Linked DNA regions of Homo sapiens. The protein of the gene in region 1 purifies or fractionates together with the protein of each later gene. This does not show direct contact. Each region holds a gene or a part of one and is shown on either strand. Other genes may lie near its edges.

Evidence for each region.
Region 2: the proteins of MKRN1 (region 1) and LARP4B purify together in Homo sapiens (affinity purification with mass spectrometry, with the first as the bait; one large-scale study listed by BioGRID). This does not show direct contact.

What each region holds. Positions count from the first base shown.
Region 1 is NC_000007.14:140,454,406-140,460,016, reverse strand, and holds part of MKRN1 (E3 ubiquitin-protein ligase makorin-1), read left to right. Parts: intron 1-80; coding exon 81-310; intron 311-783; coding exon 784-1,010; intron 1,011-3,150; coding exon 3,151-3,365; coding exon of another isoform or gene 3,366-3,369; exon of another isoform or gene 3,370-3,802; intron 3,803-4,116; coding exon 4,117-4,227; intron 4,228-4,783; coding exon 4,784-4,922; intron 4,923-5,287; coding exon 5,288-5,500; 3' UTR 5,501-5,611. UniProt on the Homo sapiens protein: E3 ubiquitin ligase catalyzing the covalent attachment of ubiquitin moieties onto substrate proteins. These substrates include FILIP1, p53/TP53, CDKN1A and TERT.
Region 2 is NC_000010.11:925,206-928,705, reverse strand, and holds part of LARP4B (la-related protein 4B), read left to right. Parts: intron 1-41; exon of another isoform or gene 42-3,500. UniProt on the Homo sapiens protein: Stimulates mRNA translation.

The DNA of each region.
Region 1 (5,611 bases):
CCTCAGCTTCCCAAACTGTTGGGATTACAGGCTTGAGCCACCACGACTGGCCGACTGCTTACTTTTGAATTTTTTCTTAGATATGAACATAGCAAACCATTGAAACAGGAAGAAGCAACTGCTACAGAGCTAACTACAAAGTCATCCCTTGCTGCTTCCTCAAGTCTCTCATCGATAGTTGGACCACTTGTTGAAATGAATACAGGCGAAGCTGAGTCAAGAAATTCAAACTTTGCAACTGTAGGAGCAGGTTCAGAGGACTGGGTGAATGCTATTGAGTTTGTTCCTGGGCAACCCTACTGTGGCCGTAGTAAGTATTCTGAAGAAGAAAATAAGAGTTAGAGGGCTGGATAGCAGTTCATCCATTTGCTTAGTTTTGACAACTTTCCCCTTTCTGCTTCTATTCCTTTTTTAGTTTAATCTTAGTACAGTACTTTAATTTGGATTACCTAAGATTTACAGATAGAGTGAAGGAAATTTTTAATCCCAGTGAAATGAATTCAGAATGTTTTGAAAAACTGAATCCTTTCGAGTACTTTTTGAAATTAAATTTCAGTTACCCAAGACATAGATAAAGAAGCAATTTTTTTTTTTTACAAGTCTAATCTTGGAAATAACAGCGGTAGAAAAAATTCCTTTCTTTCAAGTGAAGAAGTTAGTTCAGTAGACTGTTTTGGTATTTCATTGCAGTTTTATTTTCATTTTTTGCGGTTAGATTCTCAGTTCTCTTATAGTTCATGCCTTATCTATTTGGACCTTTACCACCCTCTTACACATTTTCAGCTGCGCCTTCCTGCACTGAAGCACCCCTGCAGGGCTCAGTGACCAAGGAAGAATCAGAGAAAGAGCAAACCGCCGTGGAGACAAAGAAGCAGCTGTGCCCCTATGCTGCAGTGGGAGAGTGCCGATACGGGGAGAACTGTGTGTATCTCCACGGAGATTCTTGTGACATGTGTGGGCTGCAGGTCCTGCATCCAATGGATGCTGCCCAGAGATCGCAGCATATCAAAGTAAGTCTTTAGGGAGATGTGTGTGTTATTAGATGTGAGAATCATTATTTGCCCTTTCACAGCATTGTGGGTTTATTTCAGAGAAACATTTGATGAATTGAATGGTTATCAGTGAGTAGGGAAGTTTTCCTTTCTTGGGCTTCTTGGATGCTTTATCAAGAAGTCATATTTCCAGTGAACAAAATTAACTGGGCATGGAGGCATGTGTCTATAGTCCCAGCTACTTGTTAGGCTGAGGCAAGAGGATCGCTCAAGCCCAGGAGGTTGAGGCAAAAGAAAAAAAGAAGTCCTACTTCCAGAAACTCAGACTATAGACTTCTAACATTTTTTTCCTCTTTTAAAAAATAATGTTTCTGAGATTCACATTGAATATGTTTAATCTTTTGAAAATGCACATTTCATTGGTTTTTAGTATATTTACAGAGATGTGCAACCATTACCATTTTACTAATTTTAGGATAATTTGATCATCCTACACCCATTAGCAGTCACTCTTTATTCCAGCCTTCCTCCAGCTCCTGGCAATAACGAATCTGCTTTGTCTCTGGATTGGCCTATTGTGGACATTTCATGTAAATGGAATCCTGTAATGTGGTCCTTTGTGATTGACTTCACTTCTTTCACTTAACATAGTGTTTTCAAGGTTCTTTGTGTGGTTGCGTGTAGCCGTTCTTAGTTTTGATGGCTGAATTATTGTCTTTGTATGGCTAGACCACATTTGTTTTTCCATTCATGAGTTGATGGACACTTAGATCATTTCCAGTTTTTGGCTATTATGAATAAGGCTGCTAGGAACATTTGTATATAGGTTTTTCTGTGAAGATATGTTTTCCGTTACCTAGGAGTGGAATTGCTGGGTTACATAGGAACTCTGCTTTACGTTTTGATGAACTGCCATACTTTTCCACAGTGGCTGCAGGATTTTACATTTCCAGCAGCAGTGTATGGGAGCCAGGGTAGGTTCAGAAGACATTGTGTTAGAAACTTTAACTTTATTGGAGCAAAGTTTGCTTCTAATCATTTCCATCTCTTTTAAATTTCCATCTTTTTAAATGTGGTTTTAGGGTGTGAGGCATGTTATAAGGTAGACATAATTTGATCCCTATCTTCAGCGTACTTTTGTGAATTTAGGCAGGATAAATCTCTATACGTTATATCTATATATTGAGGTAGTAGAACCTACCTCTGAATATATGTATATATGTTTTTTCTTTTAAAGGTTTAGGAAAAGACATGTTTAGTGATGATGTGAGATTATGGATGACATTGCTCTTCTGCAGTGTTATTTTTTTTATTTTTATTTTTTTTTGAGACAGAGTCTTGCTTTGTCCCCCAGGCTGGAGTGTAGCAGTGCAGTCTCGGCTCACTGCAGCCTCTGCCTCCCGAATAGCTGGGACTACAGGCATGCACCACCACGCCTGCCTCAGTTTTGTATTTTTAGTAGAGATGGGGTTTCGCCATGTTGACCAGGCTGGTCTCGAACTCCAGGCCTCATGTGATCCACCCAACCTTGGCCTTCCAAAGTGCTGGGAGTTTTCTGCATTTTTATGTTTCCTATAATCATGTTTTTTATAAGTTAAAATATGATGTCCACACAAAAATTGGTACATGAATGTTCTTGGCAGCATTATTTATAATAGCCCCAAAGTGGGCTAATCTAACCTAACCTAAGTGTGCATCAGTCTATCAAGCTGAGTAGTTGAAAAATCTCGATGAAGTTGTTTTTCTTTAAAGGCATAAGAGAGTTTACGTGCCTGTCACCCTTATTTTCCGACAGGTTTTAACTAGGGTCTTAACCTCATGTAGAAACCAGAAATAACAAACAGTATGGAAAACCGTCTTTAATGTAGTTGAGCTCCAGGTTTGGGGTAGAGAAAATTGGGTAATTTTTCAGTTCCCGAAGTTGAGTCCTCATAGTTTGATTTTCTAGTATTGTTAAGTACCACCGCAAAAACAAACAAACAAAAAAAAAACACCACACCTGTGTTTACTTGTCAGCAAAGCTAATTTTCGTGTCAGCTTGGGAACATTGTTTTTTCAGTTGACTATTTGATTCTTTGACTGTGAATCATTAACTGTTGCTCAAGTTTTTCAGGGTTCAATGACTGGATTCCACTTGTTCTCTCTCCACCTTCTCTAGTCGTGCATTGAGGCCCATGAGAAGGACATGGAGCTCTCATTTGCCGTGCAGCGCAGCAAGGACATGGTGTGTGGGATCTGCATGGAGGTGGTCTATGAGAAAGCCAACCCCAGTGAGCGCCGCTTCGGGATCCTCTCCAACTGCAACCACACCTACTGTCTCAAGTGCATTCGCAAGTGGAGGAGTGCTAAGCAATTTGAGAGCAAGATCATAAAGTGAGACTCCTCCCCAGTCTTCATTTGTGCTTTCTCTTTTGGGGAAGAATTTAGTAACTTGTGCCAACTTTCAACCAGATGGACCGCATTTAAATGCATGCATTTTATCTTGAAACTGGGATATTCTAATGGGGATTTCTTCTTTGTATTTCAGCTAGCTTCTAGGTTAGTTGGTCTATCTACTTTTATTTGAATGAGGAAACCCTGTGTATCAGTTAGAATCTTCGTGCTTTTTCTGAGGAGATTGTGTTTAATGGATTATTAGCCAGTTTAGGCTCAGTGAACAAACTGATCTAGCTCTGAATGTATGTTTCCTGACGTTTTACATTTCCACTTTCCTATTCCATTCATTAAGCTAGCCAACAATCCACCATCCTTTAAAGATTGTTCTCATAACTGAACAAAAACCACATAATCTAAACAGAGCAAAGCTACAAGAAATAAATTTATTTAAACGAAAGAAAAAGGAGTCTGTGTGAAATGTCTTCTTTTGTTTTTGTTTTTTACCTAAGTTATATTTTTCAAAAAAAAAAAAAAAGAACTGGCTAGCCCTTGAGTTGGATTTATAAAGGAGGTTGCCTTGCTTGAAAGAAATGGTCAGTTGTGTGACAGTATGTGGAACCCTTTCAGGAAATGCCCACGTGCCTTTCAGTTAAGTCTTTAAGTCTGGAGGCGACACACCAGGGTGTGTCCTTGAAGAGTGGGCCTGTAAAAGGGGAATTTGCATTGCAGCCTGTTCATTGTTTCCCAGGTCCTGCCCAGAATGCCGGATCACATCTAACTTTGTCATTCCAAGTGAGTACTGGGTGGAGGAGAAAGAAGAGAAGCAGAAACTCATTCTGAAATACAAGGAGGCAATGAGGTATGAGCACTGCAGCCTTTTCTCAAGCGAAGAGCCCAACAGAGCTTGGGTTCACTTTGAAAAGAATGGTGCTGCATTATACACTCCTACCTCCTTCCTACCCTTCTTTGACTTCCCAGGACAGTTTATTTTGTCACCCTGATAACATCCAGTATATATCTTGCTATAACACAGTCCTTGGGGTCCATGCCAAGGGACTGTGTTATAAAGAGGTCTCTACTGTTGACAAGTAAGGCCCCATGAGTGGGGTTCTACCTTATTCTGAATCCGTGTCATAGCTGTCCTATGTTCTCATGTGTTGGCTTTCTAGAAGATTTTCTCTCTATGGCATCTGCTTGTACTAGAGCTATTAACCAGCATAGACTTGAACAGAGTTACCGGTTTCTAGTTAGTGTTTCTTGCATTGGCACACACATGTTTATAAGAACACATCTTGGGGAGGGCTGTAAGCTGACATACTGGTTCTATCCCTACCTGTTTAAAGAAACCCCGGATGATAGTCAAATACAGACCTGAAATCCACTGTGAATAAGGGTTGCGATATTTTCCTTTCCAGCAACAAGGCGTGCAGGTATTTTGATGAAGGACGTGGGAGCTGCCCATTTGGAGGGAACTGTTTTTACAAGCATGCGTACCCTGATGGCCGTAGAGAGGAGCCACAGAGACAGAAAGTGGGAACATCAAGCAGATACCGGGTAACTCTCACTGTTTTTTTAAAGGAGGGGAAATTCCAAGGTATCAGTTGAGTCCTGCACATATTGGGGTAGGGGAAGGAGAAGGTTAACGCTCAGGTCTGGGAGCGAAAGTGTAGAGTATTAAAGGAGGAAACAAACCTCAGAAAACTGGGAGGGATAGGAAAGGAAGAAAAAATGTGTGTTAAAGCTCTAGCCTAAACGATTTCCATGAAGTAACCAGAGGGGAGGAAGTGGTAAATGGAAACCCTAACTAAGAAGTCTGGTTCGTCATGCCCTCTGGTGTGCTGGACGTTTTGCCTTATAAACAACAGGATAGAAGATACTGCTCGACAGTGCCATCCCTATCATGGCCTTGTTTTTTACAGGCCCAACGAAGGAACCACTTCTGGGAACTCATTGAGGAAAGAGAGAACAGCAACCCCTTTGACAACGATGAAGAAGAGGTTGTCACCTTTGAGCTGGGCGAGATGTTGCTTATGCTTTTGGCTGCAGGTGGGGACGACGAACTAACAGACTCTGAAGATGAGTGGGACTTGTTTCATGATGAGCTGGAAGATTTTTATGACTTGGATCTATAGCAACCTTGCGTGGCGTGTGAACTGGTCTGCTGACCTCAGACAGCAGCTGTCCCCTGTGGTGGTGTGGCAGTGCCTGTGTTCTCTCCTAGGCAGGCCTCTCAACTCCAGGTG
Region 2 (3,500 bases), on another chromosome or scaffold:
AGAAGCTGAAGTGGGAAGATCGCTTGAGCTTGGGAGGTTGAGGCTGCAGTGAGCCATGATCCTGCCACTGCACTCCATCCTGGACAACAGTGAGACCTTGTCTCCCCCCACCCCCAAAACATGCAAATTGGGACATCAAATTGTTAATGGTGTTTACAATGAACAGTGCCTTCAGGTAGCTGCAGCTACTCTACATAGATTTGCAAGTTTTTGTAGTGATAGGCTATGGTAGATGTTACCAGCCAAGGAGTGGCTGACAAACTCCTTTCACTGTTATTTCATTGTCATGTTAAAATTCATATTTTCCGTCAAAATAGTGATAGCTAGGATTATAATCTAGGTCTTCTAATCTTAGTAACGTGTTGTCTATGTTAGGGCCTCTCAAAGTTGTAAAAAAGCTGTATAGATGTGTTACCATCAATCGATTTCATTTGTTTTTATCCTAGTGTTAAAGGTACAAGTTTTTTTTTTTTTTTCTTTCCTGAGGCGGACTTTCACTCTTGTCGCCCAAGCTGGAGTGCAATGGTGCGTTCTTGGCTCACTGCATCCTCCGCCTCTCGGGTTCAGGTGATTCTCCTGCCTCAGCCTCCCGAGTAGCTGGGATTACAGGTGCCCTCCACCACACCTGGCTAATTTTTTTTTTTTTTGTATTTTTAGTAGAGTTGGGATTTCACCATGTTGGCCAGGCTGGTCTTGAACTCCTGACCGCAGGTGATTCGCCCGCCTCGGCCTCCCAAAGTGCTGGGATTGCAGGCGTGAGCCACGGCGTACCTGGCCAAAGGTACAAGTTTTAAATATGCTTTTATCATGCATACAGTACTCTTATAGATTCTGTCAGATTTAGGGATATTCTTTTCAGATTGATAAATTGCACAAAAATCTTGGAGTATATTCTTGTAATTTCTTCTACAAAATTCTCAAAACAACCTTTTTCCAATGGGGAGAAGACATGAACACTGAAGTCATGTTTTTGGAAAATACCTTGTTAAAAACAGACACTGCTGTAAGGGTTTCCTTGCTTATGCTCTTTTGTAGAACTTTATTGATGTGAAGAGTTCTCCTTTTTCTGTAAAAGCTTATTTTAGAGTACGAAGTAAATGAGGCACTCAGAGAGTTAACCTCATCAGGTCTGAGTTTAGTTCAGTTTAAACTTTTTGCTCTTATGCTGGTTGATATCTTTGTAACTACTCTACTTCTAGAGTTATTTTGATTGGAAAATGAATTCCTTTTTTAGAACATGGAATTGTAAGGTAGAAAACTGCTAGGTTCTCAAAAGAAGGGAGATAAATTCCAACTTGAAAGTTTTTTCCCCTAACGTTCTAATGCTTTGTTTTTCCTGTGTGTAAATGCCTTCCTTAGGAACAAGGAAAATTATTAACTCAGCTGTGTTTCCTTCCCTTCTCTTTCTCACTGCCCCCCCGCCACCCCATACCTTAATACCTTTTGTCCCTTCAATGCCTTTATAAACTCTGTCTTCTCATAGTTTTTCTGGTGAAGCTGTCATGGCTCCTATTTCAACCATAAAGGATTTGCAGTTCAGTGATGCTACTGGTTTTACATCTTCTTTCCCATCAACCCCATTGCCCTGGTTAGGAGACCTAGACCATGGAGTACATTGCAATATTGAAAGTATTTCATGTTTAACACAATTTTTTTTTTTTTTTTTGAGACCGAGTCTCGTTCTGTTGCCCAGGCTGGAGCGCACTGGCACGATCACGGCTCACTGCAACCTCTGCCTCCAGGGTTTAAGCGATTCCCCTGCCTCAGCCTCCTGAGTAGCTGGGACTACATACAGGTGCGTGCCACCACGCCCGGCTAATTTTTGTACTTTAGTACAAATTGGGTTTCACTGTGTTGGCCAGGCTGGTCTTGAACTTCTGACCTCAAGTGACCCATCTGCCTTGGCCTCCCAGAGTGCTGGGATTACAGGCGTGAGCCACTGCGCCCGGCCATGTTTAACACAAATTTGAAAGCGTACTGCTTAGTTTTTTAGGGGGAGTATGATAATCATAGAGATGAGACTTGATCTTTGCTGAAAGTGTTCTTTATGAAGTCTGATGTGCATAAATTTGCCCAATAAAATGCTCTTTTATTTACACAAATCATTTTAGTCGCACTGTAGCCAGAGTGTGGCATAGCCTGATGGCTGGCCTCTTTTCAGAAACTCATCAGGACTGCCCTAGGCCTCGCCCTGTGTGTGCTTCCACTTCTGTGTCTTCCTTCTTGCCCTGCCCCACCTTTTAATCAGGACCACGCCTCCCTCTCCTACCTTGGTGTTGCAAACGTTGTAGCCATTGCTGTTGGTAGATTCTTTGACTGAAATTGAATGTCCACCTCCTTTAAAAAAATTTTTAAAATATTTACTTAGCTCCTTAAACCATCCTTAAAAAGATATTTTAGGAGTCCTCCAGACTGCTTTGCATTAACTTCTGAGATTATGCTTCTCTGTTTCTGTAGCAACTAAGTGTACCTTTGTGTTACTTAGCACATAATTAATGTAAGCTCCTTGTGAGTGAGATTCTCTTTTTATGCTTGTCACCTCTGCCCAGCCCAGGGACTGGTAAACTGTAGATGTTTAGTGAAAGTAATTCAAGTAAAGAGATAAGAATGCTCAAAGACATCTCCCACCTGTGTTCCAGAGAAATTGTTTGCTGATTGTATACTTGCACATTTCTGTAAACAAATAGGAAAATCTTTACTCAAAAAGCATACATTAGAAAGTTTCTTATAGAGTATAAAAGTTATATTTACAAGTTTTTAACTGACTTTTCATAGCTACATTTAGCGCATAAAGTATTTTCAGATAGAGTAATTTAGCCACATGACCTTTAAATTATACTGTTTCTCAGTCTTTAAAAACGTGCCCTCTTTCGGCCAGGCACTTTGATTCACGCCTGTAATCCCAGCACTCTGGGAGGCCGAGGCGGGTGGATCACCTGAGGTTAGGAGTTCGAGACCAGCCTGGCCAACATGGTGAAAACCTGTCTGTACTAAAAATACAAAAATTAGCCAGGCGTGGTGGTGCGTGCTCGTAATCCCAGCTACTTGGGAGGCTGAGGCGGGAGAATTGCTTAAACCCGGGAGGCAGAGGTTGCAGTGATCTGAGATCACACCACTGCACTCCAGCCTGGGCGACAGAGTGAGGCTCTGTCTGAAAAAAAATGAAATAAAATAAAATAAATGCCCCCTTTTAGATAGCCATAGAATTTCTTACCTTTATTTTGCTTTAAAATAAAAACATCATGTTAACCCAAAATGAAACAATTGCAATATTGAAAATGTATCTTTTAAACTTTAGTGGATGTTTTTCCATTTTTTATTTTCTGTTAAGTATTGCTAAAGGGCCTGGCATAAAGGAGGGCCACTGAGATTACGGTAAGAAAAGGGTTCATTTTCTTCCTGTGGCAGGTGTTCTGACCAGTTGAACACTAGGGATGCAAAGATGAAAGGCAACAGGATTTTTCTGTAAGGCCCGTCATCCAGCAGGAATAGGAAAGTGC